Homo sapiens: one gene and its partner. The protein of the gene in region 2 binds, or shares a complex with, the protein of the main gene of each other region. Each region holds a gene or a part of one and is shown on either strand. Other genes may lie near its edges. A codon is read from its position in the direction of its gene.

Evidence for each region. The genes of interacting proteins can lie anywhere in the genome.
Region 1: the proteins of LPL (region 2) and GPIHBP1 are in contact, whole or in part, in a crystal structure (PDB 6OAU), measured with the Homo sapiens proteins. Residues at the interface, in NP_000228.1 of Homo sapiens: Tyr367, Gly368, Thr369, Ala371, Glu372, Glu374, Leu403, Met404, Lys406, Lys430, Lys440, Ile443, Cys445, Ser446, Arg447, Glu448, Val463, Lys464, Cys465, His466, Asp467, Ser469; in NP_835466.2 of Homo sapiens: Cys68 (codon at 6,032), Lys69 (codon at 6,035), Ser70 (codon at 6,038), Leu92 (codon at 6,104), Ala94 (codon at 6,110), His95 (codon at 6,113), Gly96 (codon at 6,116), Asn97 (codon at 6,119), Thr98 (codon at 6,122), Glu99 (codon at 6,125), Ser100 (codon at 6,260), Leu103 (codon at 6,269), Thr104 (codon at 6,272), Thr105 (codon at 6,275), Ser107 (codon at 6,281), Trp109 (codon at 6,287), Cys110 (codon at 6,290), Thr111 (codon at 6,293), Asp112 (codon at 6,296), Ile117 (codon at 6,311), Lys119 (codon at 6,317), Val121 (codon at 6,323), Glu122 (codon at 6,326), Thr124 (codon at 6,332), Val126 (codon at 6,338), Met128 (codon at 6,344).

What each region holds. Positions count from the first base shown.
Region 1 is NC_000008.11:143,209,002-143,216,642, forward strand, and holds the start of GPIHBP1 (glycosylphosphatidylinositol-anchored high density lipoprotein-binding protein 1 isoform 1 precursor), read left to right. Parts: upstream 1-4,216; 5' UTR 4,217-4,266; coding exon 4,267-4,318; intron 4,319-4,820; coding exon 4,821-4,949; intron 4,950-6,011; coding exon 6,012-6,125; intron 6,126-6,257; coding exon 6,258-6,517; 3' UTR 6,518-7,641.
Region 2 is NC_000008.11:19,949,130-19,956,618, forward strand, and holds part of LPL (lipoprotein lipase precursor), read left to right. Parts: intron 1-2,639; coding exon 2,640-2,819; intron 2,820-4,180; coding exon 4,181-4,292; intron 4,293-4,990; coding exon 4,991-5,224; intron 5,225-6,711; coding exon 6,712-6,954; intron 6,955-7,489. UniProt on the Homo sapiens protein: Key enzyme in triglyceride metabolism.

The DNA of each region.
Region 1 (7,641 bases), about 120 Mb from region 2:
GACCATCTGAAGCTCTGCTAAGCGGAGCTAGACAGAGATCAGTCACCCTCACAAGTGGGGGACAAGAGGGACCCCCTTGGAAGAGCAAGGGAAAGGAGACTCTCCAGGGTTATGGTGGTGGGGCTGAGGGTGTCTAAGGACTAGGAAATGGAGCATAGAGGGTTCCAGGTGCAGAGCAGCATGGAGGGGAGCTGGGAGGCCAGGGAGGGTACCTGAGTGAACCACACGTGAACGAGTTAATGAACGAGCTTCTGGAACCAGGATGTGTTTCCCTCGTGGGTTCTAGGGGTGCCTGGGAGCTGCAGGACCCGTGGGAGCTGCTCCCCCTGGCCGGCCCGCCCACCCACAGCTACCTCTGAGTGCTGGATCCCAGGAAAGAAAAAGGGCTTGTACCTCAGTGCACATGGTGGGCAGCCTGCTCAGCCTGGCACTGTGGGGTCATCAGAATCAGAGAGAGCCGGGCACAGCGACTCACTCCTGTAATCCCAGCACTTTGGGAGGCCGAGGCGGGTGGATCACCTGAGGTCAGGAGTTCAAGACCAGCCTGGCCAACATGGTGAAACCCTGTCTCTACTAAAAATACAAAAATTAGCTGGGCGTGGTGGTGCGAGCCTGTAATCCCAGCTACTCAGGAAGCTGAAGCAGGAGAATCGCTGGAACCCCGGAGGCGAACATTACAGTGAGCCAAGATCCTGCCATTGCACTCCAGCCTGGGCGACAGAGTGAGACTCTGTCTCAACAAAAGAAATAAATAAATAAAAATAAGCGGAGAGTAACCCCAGGGGAGGAGAGTCTGGACTCTGCTCTAAAAACAAGCCCCTCCCTCTGCCAGACTCAGGTTCAGTGAGACAAGAGAAGGTTGGCTGCAGAGAGGGCAGGAAGGAGCTCAGAGCAGGGAAAGTGTTGCAAGGGCCAGCACATCTGCAGTCTGCATCTGCCCCAAAAGGCCCTACTCTCCCGGTATGGACACCCTACACTTGCCCCTCAGTCAGAAACACTTGCCCACCCTTCCTTATAGAAAAACTCTGCTCACCCCTCAGGCCCAGCCCCAAGGTGCCCTCCTCCCAACGCCTCCCTCATTCCAAACCCAATCTCACGGCAGGCTGCCTCCCAGAGATGGCAGTGCACAGGTCTGGATCTGACTCGAGCTGGTGTCAACACGGGGGAGGGCGTACAGAGTAGGACGCGCAGGCCCAGGACAGGGCCACACAGCCCCCCAGGACAGCAGAGCCCATGGCCCCACCTGGGCATGATGCCAGCATGGACCCTGCCTGCCGAGCCCCGCCCCCACATGTCACCTAGGCAGGATGGAGTGTGGATGGCCAGGCATCCCCTGTCCACAACCAGCACCAAGCTCTGAGCCCAAGGCTGCCGCTGCCAAAAAGAGCCACGTGAGTCATGCAGGCCCCACCGTGAGAGGAGGCCCAGAGAACCGCTGTGTCAGAAGGGCCAGCCCCACGAGCCAGCAGAGCAGGCAAGTCCAGGCCCCAAGGCACAGAGGTCTGTGGGCAGGGAGCGGGGGTGGCCGGGCTGCCCTTCAACGGTGCCCTGGGGTGTGCGCATGGCTCAGGGAGGAAGCCTGGGCCTGGAAAGGCGGTTGAGCCCAGGGGCGCAGGTGCAGGCTCGAAAATGACCCATGCAGCTGCCATCAGGACCACCAGACCTTAGCCCTGGCCCTGGGGGACCACAGCCCTGCCCTGAAGGTCTTAGGCATCATATCTTCACCCTGGAGTGTCTGAGAGGTCATGACCTTGCCCTGGGGGCTTGAGGGAGGCTGCGTGGTGCCTGGGTGGGATGAGGGGGTGGGCTCCACATACAGAGCCCACCACGCCTACCTGCCGGCTGTAGGCAGTGCTGGGGAACCAGGTGTCTGCCACTGCGGGTCCCCTTTCACACCTGCGCACCATCCCAGGTGGCACCTTCTGTAGGGGCTGGACCAGACCCACTAGCCTTTCCGGGGCGGGACAGAGGGAACAGCCTCTCAGTGGCGAGCACTAAATTTAATTCAATCTGCGAATCAAATGTGCTCTGATTGTCCCTAGGTGATTCTCGCAATAAGCACTTGCCTGGGCTGGGCAGTTTGCACCTGGGCTGAAGAGGAGCTGGGCCCAGAGGGAGGCAACGTGCAAGGGCCTGGGCCCCTGTGGAGGGGAGGCGGCAGGTGGAGGCCCCTTGAGAATCCCAGTAGCGCCCTTCCTAGGAGCAGCTCCTGCAGCACTAGATTCAAGGGCCTGTAGCGGTAGCCGGGGCGGGGCGCGGGGGAGGTAGGGCAGCAGGAAAGCGGGGCACCAGGGAAGAGGGGCGACAGGGAGGCGGGGCGTGGGGGAGGAGGGGTGAAGATGACGGGAGGCGGTGCACGGGGGAGGCGGGGCACAGGAGAGGCGGGTCGACAGGGAGGTGGGACGCTGGGGAGAAGGGGCGAATGGGGGCGGGGCGATGGGGAGGCGGGGCGACGGGAAGTAGGGGCAGTGGGGGAGGCGGGGCATGGGGTAGACAGGTGTGGGGGAGGCGGGGCACCAGGGAAGCGGGGCGTGGGGGGAGGCGGGGCGTGAGAGAGGCGGGGCAGTGGGGGAGGCGGGGCGTGGGGGGAGGCGGGGCAGTGGGGGAGGCGGGGCAGTGGGGGAGGCGGGGCGTGGGGGGAGGCGGGGCAGTGGGGGAGGCGGGGCAGTGGGGGAGGCGGGGCAGTGGGGGAGGCGGGGCGTGGGGGAGGCGGGCCGAGGGCGAGAGGGCGCAGGGAGGCGGGTGGGGGTGGGGCCACGCGCGGAGGGGCAGGGAAGGGCGGGGCGGGGCGGGGCGGGACGGGGCTGGGGGGGACAGGCATCAGGTATGAAGAGTTTGGGGCTGGCGGGGCGTGTCCGGCTGTGGCGTGGGCACCACTATGGGAGACCCTGGCTTGGCAAGTGACCTTGCAGCCTTGGCTGGGGAAGGGCTAGATGCTGGGTGGGTGCCGGTAGAGTGGAAAGAATGACAGGTTCAGGTGAATTAAGGAAGGATGGTTGACTCGGTGGCTGGGACATTAGAGACAGGTATTCCCAGCCTCAGGCGCTGTCCTAAGCCCAGCAGGTACTGACCCTTGATGGTCACCTCACCCTATGAGGGAGCTGAGGCCTGGGGAACCCAAGGGGCTAGTCCAGAACCCACAGCCGGGGGAAGGAGGAACCGGGTCTTAAACCCAGGTAGCTCACTCCAGAACCAACTCAACCTCTGTTACAGGTGGCCGGCCAGAAAATGCCCCACCCCACCCATTGACAGTCGGGGAAACTGAGGCCTCAGTAGGTGAAGTGCCTGGCCCAAGCACCAAGGCACACAGAGACGCTCAGGCTTGACCCTGGCTCCGGACGTCCAGCCCCTGCCGCTGCCCCACCCCTCTGCTGCCCTTGGGAGAGGGGCAGCTCAGAGCCTCGACTCTGCACTCTGCATCAGCACCCCCCAAGGGCTTGGGTGGGGTCTTGAGAGGAGGGGGTGGCCTCAGGGAGCGACCTGGGCTTTCCAAGCCTCTCCCAGAGCAGCCCGTCTCTCACACAAGGCCAGAAGGCAGGTGGGTGCTGATGGCTTTCCCAGCAAGAGACCGAGGGGGCGGGCCCCCAAGAGCTCCAGAAAGCTCTCCACCGGACACCAGCAGGAACAGCACTGCAGATGGAGCAGCAGGGGCAAAGACCCGAGGTGATAGTGAGGGGCAGCCGGGAGGCCTTGGGCCTAGCAGTGCATTGCTGAGTGTGGGTGAGGAGGAGGTGAGCACGCAGCCTTAGCTTGAGGGCATTGACTGTGTTTTTACTTAAATGCTCTTAAAGGGGCCTGGGTGTGATGCTGACTCTAGGATGACGATGCTTGGCCAGTGACCAGCAAATAGAGGGTCTGTGACCCCAAGGTCCTGTGACTATGGAGCCCAGACATGGGGTTGAGGGGTGTCAGGCATGGCCCATTCCGGGGCGAGGCTCCCTGCCCTGCACTGCAGGGCTGAGGCACTGAGCGGCAAGCCAGGCGAGGGCCAGCACCACCTTCCACCTGCCGTGGCACGGGTGCACAGGACGTTCCAAGGCCAACCACAATGACTTCTCCTTCCCCTCTGGCCCCAGATGTCCTGGAGGGAAACAACAGTCCCTGGCCTGGCGCCTGGAGCTGGGGACCAGTGTGAGGCCCATTGTTTGAGGCTGGAGCTGGTGGGGGCCACTAGGAAGCCCACGGCAATGCCCTTCATCCCACTTACCGCAGCTCCAGAGCCCTGCGGGAGGACTCAGAGTCAGGGACACAGCAGCGTCCGGCGAGATGAAGGCGCTCGGGGCTGTCCTGCTTGCCCTCTTGCTGTTCGGGCGGCCAGGTGCGGGGCAAAGGGTAACCCTGCGGTGAGGGGGCAGCAACAGCAGTCCTGGAGCACAGGGACCTCCAGGGACCCCCAGCAGGGGCTTAGGAAGAAGGAGGGGATGAGGCTGGAGTCCCCAGCCCAGAGCAGCATGGATGGAAGCTGGCCTGGGTCCCCGAGAGTCCCCAAATATCTGCGCCCCTGTTTATGTGGGGTGCGGGGAGGGGCTACCATAAAGGGCCAGCCCACAGCAGCTGCTGTTGTAACTACAATGCCAGGGCACACTCGGCTGCAGGACAGTGAGTAGGGTGAGTAGGGTAGTAGGACAGTGAGTAGGGTGAGTAGGCTGCAGGACAGTGAGTAGGGTGAGTAGGGTGTTCAGGGTAGGGGCCCTCCCCAGCCACCCTGGGGCCCGAGGATGGCTGGGGAGGGCCAAGGAGTTGGGGGCACGATGCTTGCCCAGAGCAGGTGTCCTCCATACCCGGGTAGCTGAGGCTTACAAGCATCCCTGCACGGCCAGGGAGAGGGCAGACACAGCAGGAGGAAGAGGAAGAGGACGAGGACCACGGGCCAGATGACTACGACGAGGAAGATGAGGATGAGGTGGAAGAGGAGGAGACCAACAGGCTCCCTGGTGGCAGGAGCAGAGGTATGGCCGCCCCAACCCCAGAGCCCTGCTGCCTGATCTGCCTGGAGCATTCTGGGCGGGGCTGTGTGATGGAAGCCAGCAGGCCACAGTCCTGCTGTGAGCTTGCCTCCAGCAGAGTGGGGGACACTCAGTACACCCCTCACTGCTGCTCACCATGACACTCAGTTGCCTTCCAGAGTAGGGAACAGGGGAAGAAGCCACCAGCTGGGAGGGTCAGTGGTGCCAGGATGTAGAGGTTAAATAGGAGTTCACCAGGCAGAGAAGGGCTCAGTGGGGGCCTAGGGTGGAGACACAAGCACAGAGGCCCCAGGGTAGGGTTCAGTTTTGTGGGGCAGAGAGAGCAGCAGGGTGGGCCGGTCCTGTACAGGGGAGGGCTGGATTGGCTGCTGCGGGCTGGGGAGCCAGGGAACCGCTTAGAGCAGAGCAGAGTAGGGCTAAGAAGAGCCCACCCTCACTGCCCACCTGACACACCCCTACACGTGGGCCACCCTCTGCTCTCTCCCATCCCGAGAAAAGCAGAGCAAATCGCCGCATCCAACCCGAGGGCCGGCCCCTCCCTAGCCAGGGACCACAGCGTGCCCCACCACACACAGCCCCTCCCTAGCCAGGGCCCCCAGCATGCCCCACCACACACAGCCCACCCCCCTCCCAGGAGCCCCAAGCCTGCCCTCAGCACGAGCCCTGCCCCACACACCCACGAGGTGTCCCCTGTGAGGCCCTCCTCTGCCAGGCCTGGTGCTCCTGGAGGCAGGACTGAGTCAGACCCACCTCCAGGTTTCTGTGACCACGGCAGGAGCCTGGGCAGCATTGTCGCAGGACGTGAGTGATGATGGGAAGTTCGCCCTGCCTGACCCGCAATCCCTTGCCCCCTAAACACACAGGCTCACGCACACAGCACAGCTTACAGGACCAAGTCAGGGGTCGCCCGCCCATCTGAGCAGTGGGTGCTGGAGGCTCACCAGGCTAGGCTTTGGGAGCACAGCTGAGAACGGGGAGGTGGACAGGGACGTGGGAGGAGACCCTGGGGGGCCCGGCCTCGGCCTGAGCCCGCCTTGTCCCCAGTGCTGCTGCGGTGCTACACCTGCAAGTCCCTGCCCAGGGACGAGCGCTGCAACCTGACGCAGAACTGCTCACATGGCCAGACCTGCACAACCCTCATTGCCCACGGGAACACCGGTAAGTGGGCGTGGGGCCGCAGCACATGCACCCCCAGGCGGCGGGAAAGCCAGGGGCCCGGAACAGAGCCCTGCAGAGCCACCTCAGAGACCCCGCCCATCCTCAGCACTTGTTCCCCACTCCCCTTCCCAGAGTCAGGCCTCCTGACCACCCACTCCACGTGGTGCACAGACAGCTGCCAGCCCATCACCAAGACGGTGGAGGGGACCCAGGTGACCATGACCTGCTGCCAGTCCAGCCTGTGCAATGTCCCACCCTGGCAAAGCTCCCGAGTCCAGGACCCAACAGGCAAGGGGGCAGGCGGCCCCCGGGGCAGCTCCGAAACTGTGGGCGCAGCCCTCCTGCTCAACCTCCTTGCCGGCCTTGGAGCAATGGGGGCCAGGAGACCCTGACCCACGGCCCCTCCCCACCCCCACCCGGCTCACCCCCGGCCCTGCCAGCACTCTGTCTGGTACCTTCCCCTCCTGCCCCTGCACCAGCTTTGGAGAATGGATTTGGAGTGTCTTGGGCGATCCAGCCAGCGCAGGCCCCCCGGCCCGGTTGCTTCCTCAGTTCCCGGCTGTGTCCTTGGTGTCCTTTCTCCACCACCTGTGAGCAGCAAGACTGCCGCACGTGGGCGCTGGGTCCAGACCTCGGCTGCCACGCCCCAGGACCTGCAGCCCTCATGGGGGCTGGGGATCCCCATCAGCACAGCCAGGCAGAGATGATACCCACCACACACCTGGGGGCCCCCACACCCAGTCCTCACCCTTAACTTCTGCCATGGGAATTCCTCCATCTGCAGCGGTCACACGGGCCCACCCTGCCCTTCCCCAGGTCGGCCTCTCCGCTGTCTGGAGGGAAGGGGATTTGGAGGGAGGCTGTCGTCGCCCCCAGGAAAGACGGGCCTGGGGGAGGCGGGACAGTGGGAGAGGCGCGCTGAGGATGAGAGGGCACAGGGAGGTGGGTTGGGGTGAGGCCACATGCGGAGGGGCGGGGCGGGGGGGGGCTGGGGGGACAGGCACCAAGTATGAAGAGGATGGGGCCAGCGGGGCCTGTCTGGCTATGGCGTGAGCACCGCTATGGGAGACCCTGGCTTGGAAAGTGAACTTGCAGCCTTGGATGGGGAAGGGCCAGATGCTGGGTGGGTGCCTGTCACCTTGAGGTGACCATCTAGGGTCAGTACCTGCTGGGCTTAGGACAGCGCCTGAGGCTGGGAATACCTGTCTCTGCTCTAGCAGAGGCTAAAGCAGGCTAGAGCAGTGGAGGGGTGGAGTTGATGAAAGGAGAGGAGTAGATGAGATGGAATTTTTCCAGCCTCATCCTGGCCTGCCCTCTAGACTCCAGTCCCCAAGCCCTCAGCCTAGTGGGTGTCATGGATGGATCTGGGGGTGTCAGACAGGCTACCCTGTGCCAGGGAGGGGGCAGAATGGGCCTGCAGCTTCCTGCAGAGGAAGCAGGACTGGGTAGCAGAGCCGGGAAGGTGGGTGGCCCATTACAGGGGGGTCCCCAGGGTGTCCTCTGGCAGGGCTGTGAC
Region 2 (7,489 bases):
AATTTATTTAAAAGGATTTGTGTAAAATGGCTTGTTAAAGATATATTATCTATCCATTATGTCAGAGCTTGTGAATATTATAATACTAATTTCTAGTGAGAACTAACTAAAAATAACATTCATCTAGTCCACATTTCTTTTCCTACATAATTTAAGTGGCTTTGTTATTGACTGAAGAGGACAATCGCTACAATTTTTATAGAGATGAGACTACTACTAACAGAATTCACACAGATGTTTAACAAAATATAGCCATTTACTATGTTAACATAGTAAATTCAATATTTTGTGATAAAATCTCAAATTCCTAAACATAAATCCTTTAATATTTTAATAGGTGTAAGTAGGAAAAAGGAATCTTTTTCTTTTTTGAGATGGAGGCTCACTCTATTGCCCAGGCTGGAGTGCAGTGGCGCGATCTCGGCTCACTGCAACCTCCGCCACCTGGGCATAAGAGATTCTCCTGCCTCAGCCTCCCGAGTAGCTGGGACTACAGGCGCCCACCACCACACCCGGCCAATTTTTATATTTTCAGCACAGGCAGGGTTTCACCCTGTTGGCCAGGCTGGTCTCGAACTCCTGACCTCAAGTGATCTACCCACCTTGGCCTCCCAAAGTGTTGGGATGACAGGCGAGAGCCACTGCATCTGGCCCAGAAAAAGGAATCTTTAGAGGCCCTTTGGTTATATACAGAACTTGGATTTTAAAATTTTTCAAAAAATCTGAGCTTAATAAACGCATTTATACAACAGAAATAAATTGAGTATCTCAGTCATCTCAATCTTATCCCTGAGAGAATTTTATACTTTGGGAAGTTGTGGGAAAAAAATGGTTCTTTTTCATACTAAGATGACATGACCAACCCAATATCAACAGACGGTGCCACTTCCTATCATTGGTCCTACTGCCTCACTAAGCCCACCTGTATCTTTCACATCATGTGTCCTGACATTTTGAGTGCTTGAGCACAGAGACTGCTGTCTGGCTGTGGGACTGAGTTGGGTCTGTGCAAGAACTAAGCCAGCCACACTGATCTTGATTATCTCAGTGAACTCACTGGCAGGGTCAGGTGGCCCACCTGGTATAGGCAGCAGGGAGGGCTTCAGTTCAGCTGCGTGTCTGAAAACCAAAGATTTAAAACATAGTAATTATTGAACCTCAGAAGAAAAACTCAGATTGAAAGAACTTAGAATAAGACCCTTTTTGAGTTGAGAAAGGTGAGTACTTAGATTTTTCATTTGCTTTGTTTGGGATTACTTACATCAGTATTTTATGTTGATCAGAAAGAAAGGATTCAATTAGCTATTGTTCGGTTAATAAAAATGTCAGCCACTGTAGGAGTAAGTTGGATGTCCAGCCTTTTTAGATTGCTTAACTTGGAAACACTGGGCTGGGAGCGGTGGCTCATGCCTGTGATCCCAGCACTCTGGGAGGCCAAGGCAGGCAGATCACTGGAGGTCAGGAGTTTGAGACCAACCTGGCCAACATGGGGAAACCCAATCTCTACTAAAAAAATACAAAAAAATTAGCCAGGTGTGGTGGTATGTGCTTGTAGTCCCAGCTACTCAGGAGGCTGAGGCAGGAGAATCGCTTGAACCAAGGAGGCGGAGGTTGCACTGAGCTGAGATCATGCCACTGCACTCCAGCCTGGGCGAGACAGTAAGACTCTGCCAAAAGAAAGGAAAGAAAGGAGGGAAAGAAAGGAAGGAATGAAAGGAAGGAAGGGAAGGAGGAAGGGAAGGAGGGAGGGAGGAAGGAAGGAAGGAATGAAGGAAGGAAGGAAGGAATGAAGGAAGGAAGGAAGGGAGGGAGGAAGAAAGGAAGGAAGAACAAAGAAAAGAGAAACACTGGTAGTACAGAAAAACTTCTGATAGAGGCCTAGAGTAAACCCGATTTTCTTGCCTTATCTGAAATAAGCTGCCTGGGGACTCACAGGCACAGACGAAGGGAAATGAGGAGGCTCTCCAGCTGTGTCATGAGACACCCAAAGGAATGCTTAGCATGTAGCATGCATGTGATACATCCCAGCAGGTTGCTTAGACACAGCTATCTTGGAGCTTTGCCACTTGCTTGGATGTCACTGGCTTTAAGTACAGGGTTCCCATTGTGAAGTAGGGGATCCTGGCTGAAACAGGGAGACATTAACATTACATTCTGAAGAAATGACATCAACCTCTCCTGATCTTGAAAGCCAACTACAAAGGGTGCCCAACACCCCAACCTTGAAGGGAGGCGAAGGTGAGTGGGACTGGACCAATTCAACAGGGTTCTGCTCCTAGCCAGGTGCTCCTGCTAGTTTCCTCAAAGACCCACTTTGCATTCAGACCAATCTTTCCTTTTAATAGTATAAATGATCAAAATTTTATTGAATGTCTAAAATATACTTTTTAAATGGGAAGCATGGTGAACCCCAATCTGCCGTTCCTCAACTCAACTCAATGCCTTCCTGGCTTACTTAGATCTGCCTTGGAAGGGACAGACCTGTCTCTGAACACTGTTCTGTTATTTGATTTTTCTATCTGTGCCAATGGGTTTCCAATCAAGTTTGTTTTTTCCATTTCATGCAGGTGTATTGGGCTGATGTATCTATGACAAGTGGTAGGTGGGTATTTTAAGAAAGCTTGTGTCATCATCTTCAGGTAACAGGAATGTATGAGAGTTGGGTGCCAAAACTTGTGGCCGCCCTGTACAAGAGAGAACCAGACTCCAATGTCATTGTGGTGGACTGGCTGTCACGGGCTCAGGAGCATTACCCAGTGTCCGCGGGCTACACCAAACTGGTGGGACAGGATGTGGCCCGGTTTATCAACTGGATGGAGGTAAGACTGGGAGAAGGAGACTTATGTGTCCAAAACAGTGTTTTTGACTGGAGCCAGAAAACCGGCTGTTCTTTCTTCCTTTTCTCTTAGATTTAAATATTTTCTGGGGGCATTCAAATCTTCAGAATCAGCGTGGATATTATTTTATATCCAAAAGCAACATTTTGATAAGAATAGACTATAAGGCCAATAAATAGTCCTGCCCTGCTCTATCGTTTGATATTTTCACAGTGAATAGATCTGCTGAGACCAATAACTAAGTGGGCCCAACAGAAAAAAGCTTGTGATTTTCGGACAGAGGAAAGATGGCATGTTCAGCCAGACCCTTCCCTACCAGTTGGCTGGCCTGTGGACATCTTATCCTCACCTTGACATACCAATCTCTTTCATGAAAATATTAATAGTACTTATTCTTTAGTGTGAAATAGGATGAACGTTTTTGTTGAGCATTGGGAGAGTGATGGAATTGAGCTAGGAAGATGTTGGAAGGGAAGGTGCATAGGATAGAAGGGAACTGAGGTCTGGAGTTCTGACTTAGCTGCAAGAGACCCACTTTTTCACACGATCCCTTGAGAAGTACCTCTGAAAAGTATCTTGGGGTTGGAAAGAAGCTGATACTCTGACCAAGGCAAATTATTTTAACCAGGTAATTGGAAGTAAAAAATAAGCTGTGTTTATTAGACTGATCATAAAAGACAAAAGTTCTTTTCTTGTCTTTTTTGCTGACCAGGCAAATGAACATGGGCAAACGGGATCACCTCCCTGGGGCTCAGGCTTCTCACCTGTTAAATGAGGGGCTGGACCATGTACCTCTGGTCCCTTCCACTGAATGTTTCCTGAGTCTGTCATTGCTTGGCTAACCTTCAATGATAAAGTGATACAGATATTTAGAGTAAGGAATAATGGGAAAATATATACCCATATACTATACATTCAAACATACACACATATACATATATGCATGCATATAAATGTATACGCATATGTATATGTGTATATGTTTGTACGTATAGTATATGGTTATATATGCAAATACATATACATATACAAACATATGCATATATTATATACATAAATAATACTATTTCAGATGCATGGAAAAACTTTGTAATTTAAATCTGCTATTAAAGAAAGAGAAAATCAATTCTGGATTTGTTTACGGAAAAGTGAAACAAAAGAAAAAGACAATTTTAACACTAGAGAATATTTTCTCTCTCTTACCTGTAACACAAAATTAAAATAAGTAGAATTAGTTTTCAGTATTTCCTATATTTGGAAAACAATATTTATATTCATTTTGTTTCTTTTAGTTTTATTTTTGGCAGAACTGTAAGCACCTTCATTTTCTTTTTCTTCCAAAGGAGGAGTTTAACTACCCTCTGGACAATGTCCATCTCTTGGGATACAGCCTTGGAGCCCATGCTGCTGGCATTGCAGGAAGTCTGACCAATAAGAAAGTCAACAGAATTACTGGTAAGAAAGCAATTTCGTTGGTCTTATCATAAGAGGTGAAAAGACTGTCATTCTGAGAGAGAATCAGAACAAATTTTGTTAAATACCCACATGTGTGGTGTTCTTCCCGGAGACATGACCAGCACTTGATTATCTCATTGTAGGGCTCTTTATTAGGGATAAGAAAAAACACAGACGCTCTCACTGGCTTACTATCCACTGGCAATAGCACAGAAATAAAGCATAATTACACACAATGCCTGCAGATTTCTCTGGGAAGCCTGTTTCCTCCCACTCTCAGCTCTGTGTTTTAGTAGTGTAAATGCACATCAGTACTAGGAGAAAAGAAGAAGGACCAATTCCAGAGGCCACTTCGAAAGAAGACCGTCATCTAGGCAAAGGTGTGGCATACACACAGAGAGAAAGAACCCACCACTGTTTATACATCTTCTCGACATATTCAGAAATAATCTACAAAAGGAAATCCAGCCATCCTGAGTGGAAACTGCTGCATAAGGCTAGTTTAAGAGACTCAAATTCATTTTAGAAGGAGCCAAGCCTCCTTTTATGTCTCTCTAAGTAAAGATACCATGACTGTAGAATAGGAGCTAATAAGAATCTAAATAGCTGCCAGTGCATTCAAATGATGAGCAGTGACATGCGAATGTCATACGAATGGAAATTTACAAATCTGTGTTCCTGCTTTTTTCCCTTTTAAGGCCTCGATCCAGCTGGACCTAACTTTGAGTATGCAGAAGCCCCGAGTCGTCTTTCTCCTGATGATGCAGATTTTGTAGACGTCTTACACACATTCACCAGAGGGTCCCCTGGTCGAAGCATTGGAATCCAGAAACCAGTTGGGCATGTTGACATTTACCCGAATGGAGGTACTTTTCAGCCAGGATGTAACATTGGAGAAGCTATCCGCGTGATTGCAGAGAGAGGACTTGGAGGTAAATATTATTTAGAAGCGAATTAAATGTGACTCTTATCCTTAACCCTTATTGACCCAATGTCCTACTCAGTAGCTTCAAAGTATGTAGTTTTCATATACACATTTGGCCAAATTATGTTTCTGAAGAATTCTGCAATGTTCAGCATGACCACCTTAGAGCCAGGCAGACAGCCATTTTATCTTTTATTTACTATACTGTAGGCTACACTGAGCAGTGCACTTACAGTAGCAAGAGAAAAAGGTGGGATTTTAGACAGGAAGACTCCACTGACCTCAATAATGGCATCATAAAATGCTATCTGGCCACATGTTGTCATACCTTGAATGTAGCTGCAAAGCCAATGGAAAGATTTTAGATGTTACTGGAACAGAAGATGTTAATTAGGATAAATCTTCCAAAATGTTCAGAACATAATGTTAGCTTAATGTTTTACTTTAATAATGTTAGCTTGTGTTAAATTTATGATTTTTGTTTGTTTGTTTTTTGAGATAGAGTCTTATTCTATTGCCCAAGCTGGGGTGCAGTCACACAATCACAGGGACTTGCAATGTTGCCCAGGCTGGTCTCAAACTCCTGGCCTCAAGTGATCCTCCTGCCTCAGCCTCCCAAAGTTCTGGGATTGCAGCTGTGAGCCACCACGCCCAGTTTACGATTTATTTTTAAGAGCCCCTTGCATACTTTATAGACATTGGGACCTACCTAGGATATTCTCGTTATTTTTGTGCACGTAATAGAACTTAGAGCATATTGTTACTATTTTCGATTGTCCTAAAAACTTACAAGGAATTCATTCTTATGGCATTGCTGATTATTTCTATGTTCATTTGATATAAAAGAGTGTTAGTAGGGGCAGAACCCTCAATTGTACATAATATCAATGATAAAATACAATTCATTTAACAATTACCCTCTTAAGATGTGGTTTCTAGAAATACAAATTGTCCCTAACTTACAGTTTTCCAACTTTACAATTGGGCTGTAACACCATTTTAAGTTGAGAAGCACGTGATGGTTTGACTTAAAACTTTTTGACATTATGATGGGTTTTGGGGGTATTAAGTGCATTTTGACTTACAGTATTTTTGACTTATGAAGAATTTATTGTAAGGCAAGGGGCAGGTATATGTTTCTAGAAGCACCTAGAAGTGTTAGACACTTTCAATGTAAGAGAAGGATGAGATAAACAAGGAAATCAACCTCCACCTTGGAGGCTTATTACAGCTTCATAAACATACTCATAAATATAAGAAGCACAAAAGTCAAAAATTCCCTGTGAACTTGCAACTTTCACTCTCTTGAAGGTGGGTGGGCCGCTACCACCAAGAATATCTCCTGAAATAGGGCCTACAATCATAAATGCACAGGACTATATCCTTGGGTGATTCTACTCTAACACCACATCTCACCTATTTTAGACATGCCAAATGAAACACTCTTTGTGAATTTCTGCCGAGATACAATCTTGGTGTCTCTTTTTTACCCAGATGTGGACCAGCTAGTGAAGTGCTCCCACGAGCGCTCCATTCATCTCTTCATCGACTCTCTGTTGAATGAAGAAAATCCAAGTAAGGCCTACAGGTGCAGTTCCAAGGAAGCCTTTGAGAAAGGGCTCTGCTTGAGTTGTAGAAAGAACCGCTGCAACAATCTGGGCTATGAGATCAATAAAGTCAGAGCCAAAAGAAGCAGCAAAATGTACCTGAAGACTCGTTCTCAGATGCCCTACAAAGGTAGGCTGGAGACTGTTGTAAATAAGGAAACCAAGGAGTCCTATTTCATCATGCTCACTGCATCACATGTACTGATTCTGTCCATTGGAACAGAGATGATGACTGGTGTTACTAAACCCTGAGCCCTGGTGTTTCTGTTGATAGGGGGTTGCATTGATCCATTTGTCTGAGGCTTCTAATTCCCATTGTCAGCAAGGTCCCAGTGCTCAGTGTGGGATTTGCAGCCTTGCTCGCTGCCCTCCCCTGTAAATGTGGCCATTAGCATGGGCTAGGCTATCAGCACAGAGCTCAGAGCTCATTTGGAACCATCCACCTCGGGTCAACAAACTATAACCCTTGTGCCAAATCCAGCCTACTTCCTGCTTTTGTAAATAGTTTTTTTAAAACTTTTAAGTTCAGGGGTACGTATGTAGGTTTGCTAAAAAGGTAAACTTGTGACATGGGAGTTTGTTGTCCAGAATATTCCATCACCCAGGTATTAAGCTTAGTACCCATTAGTTACTTTTCCTGAAGCTCTCCCTCCTCCCACCCTCTG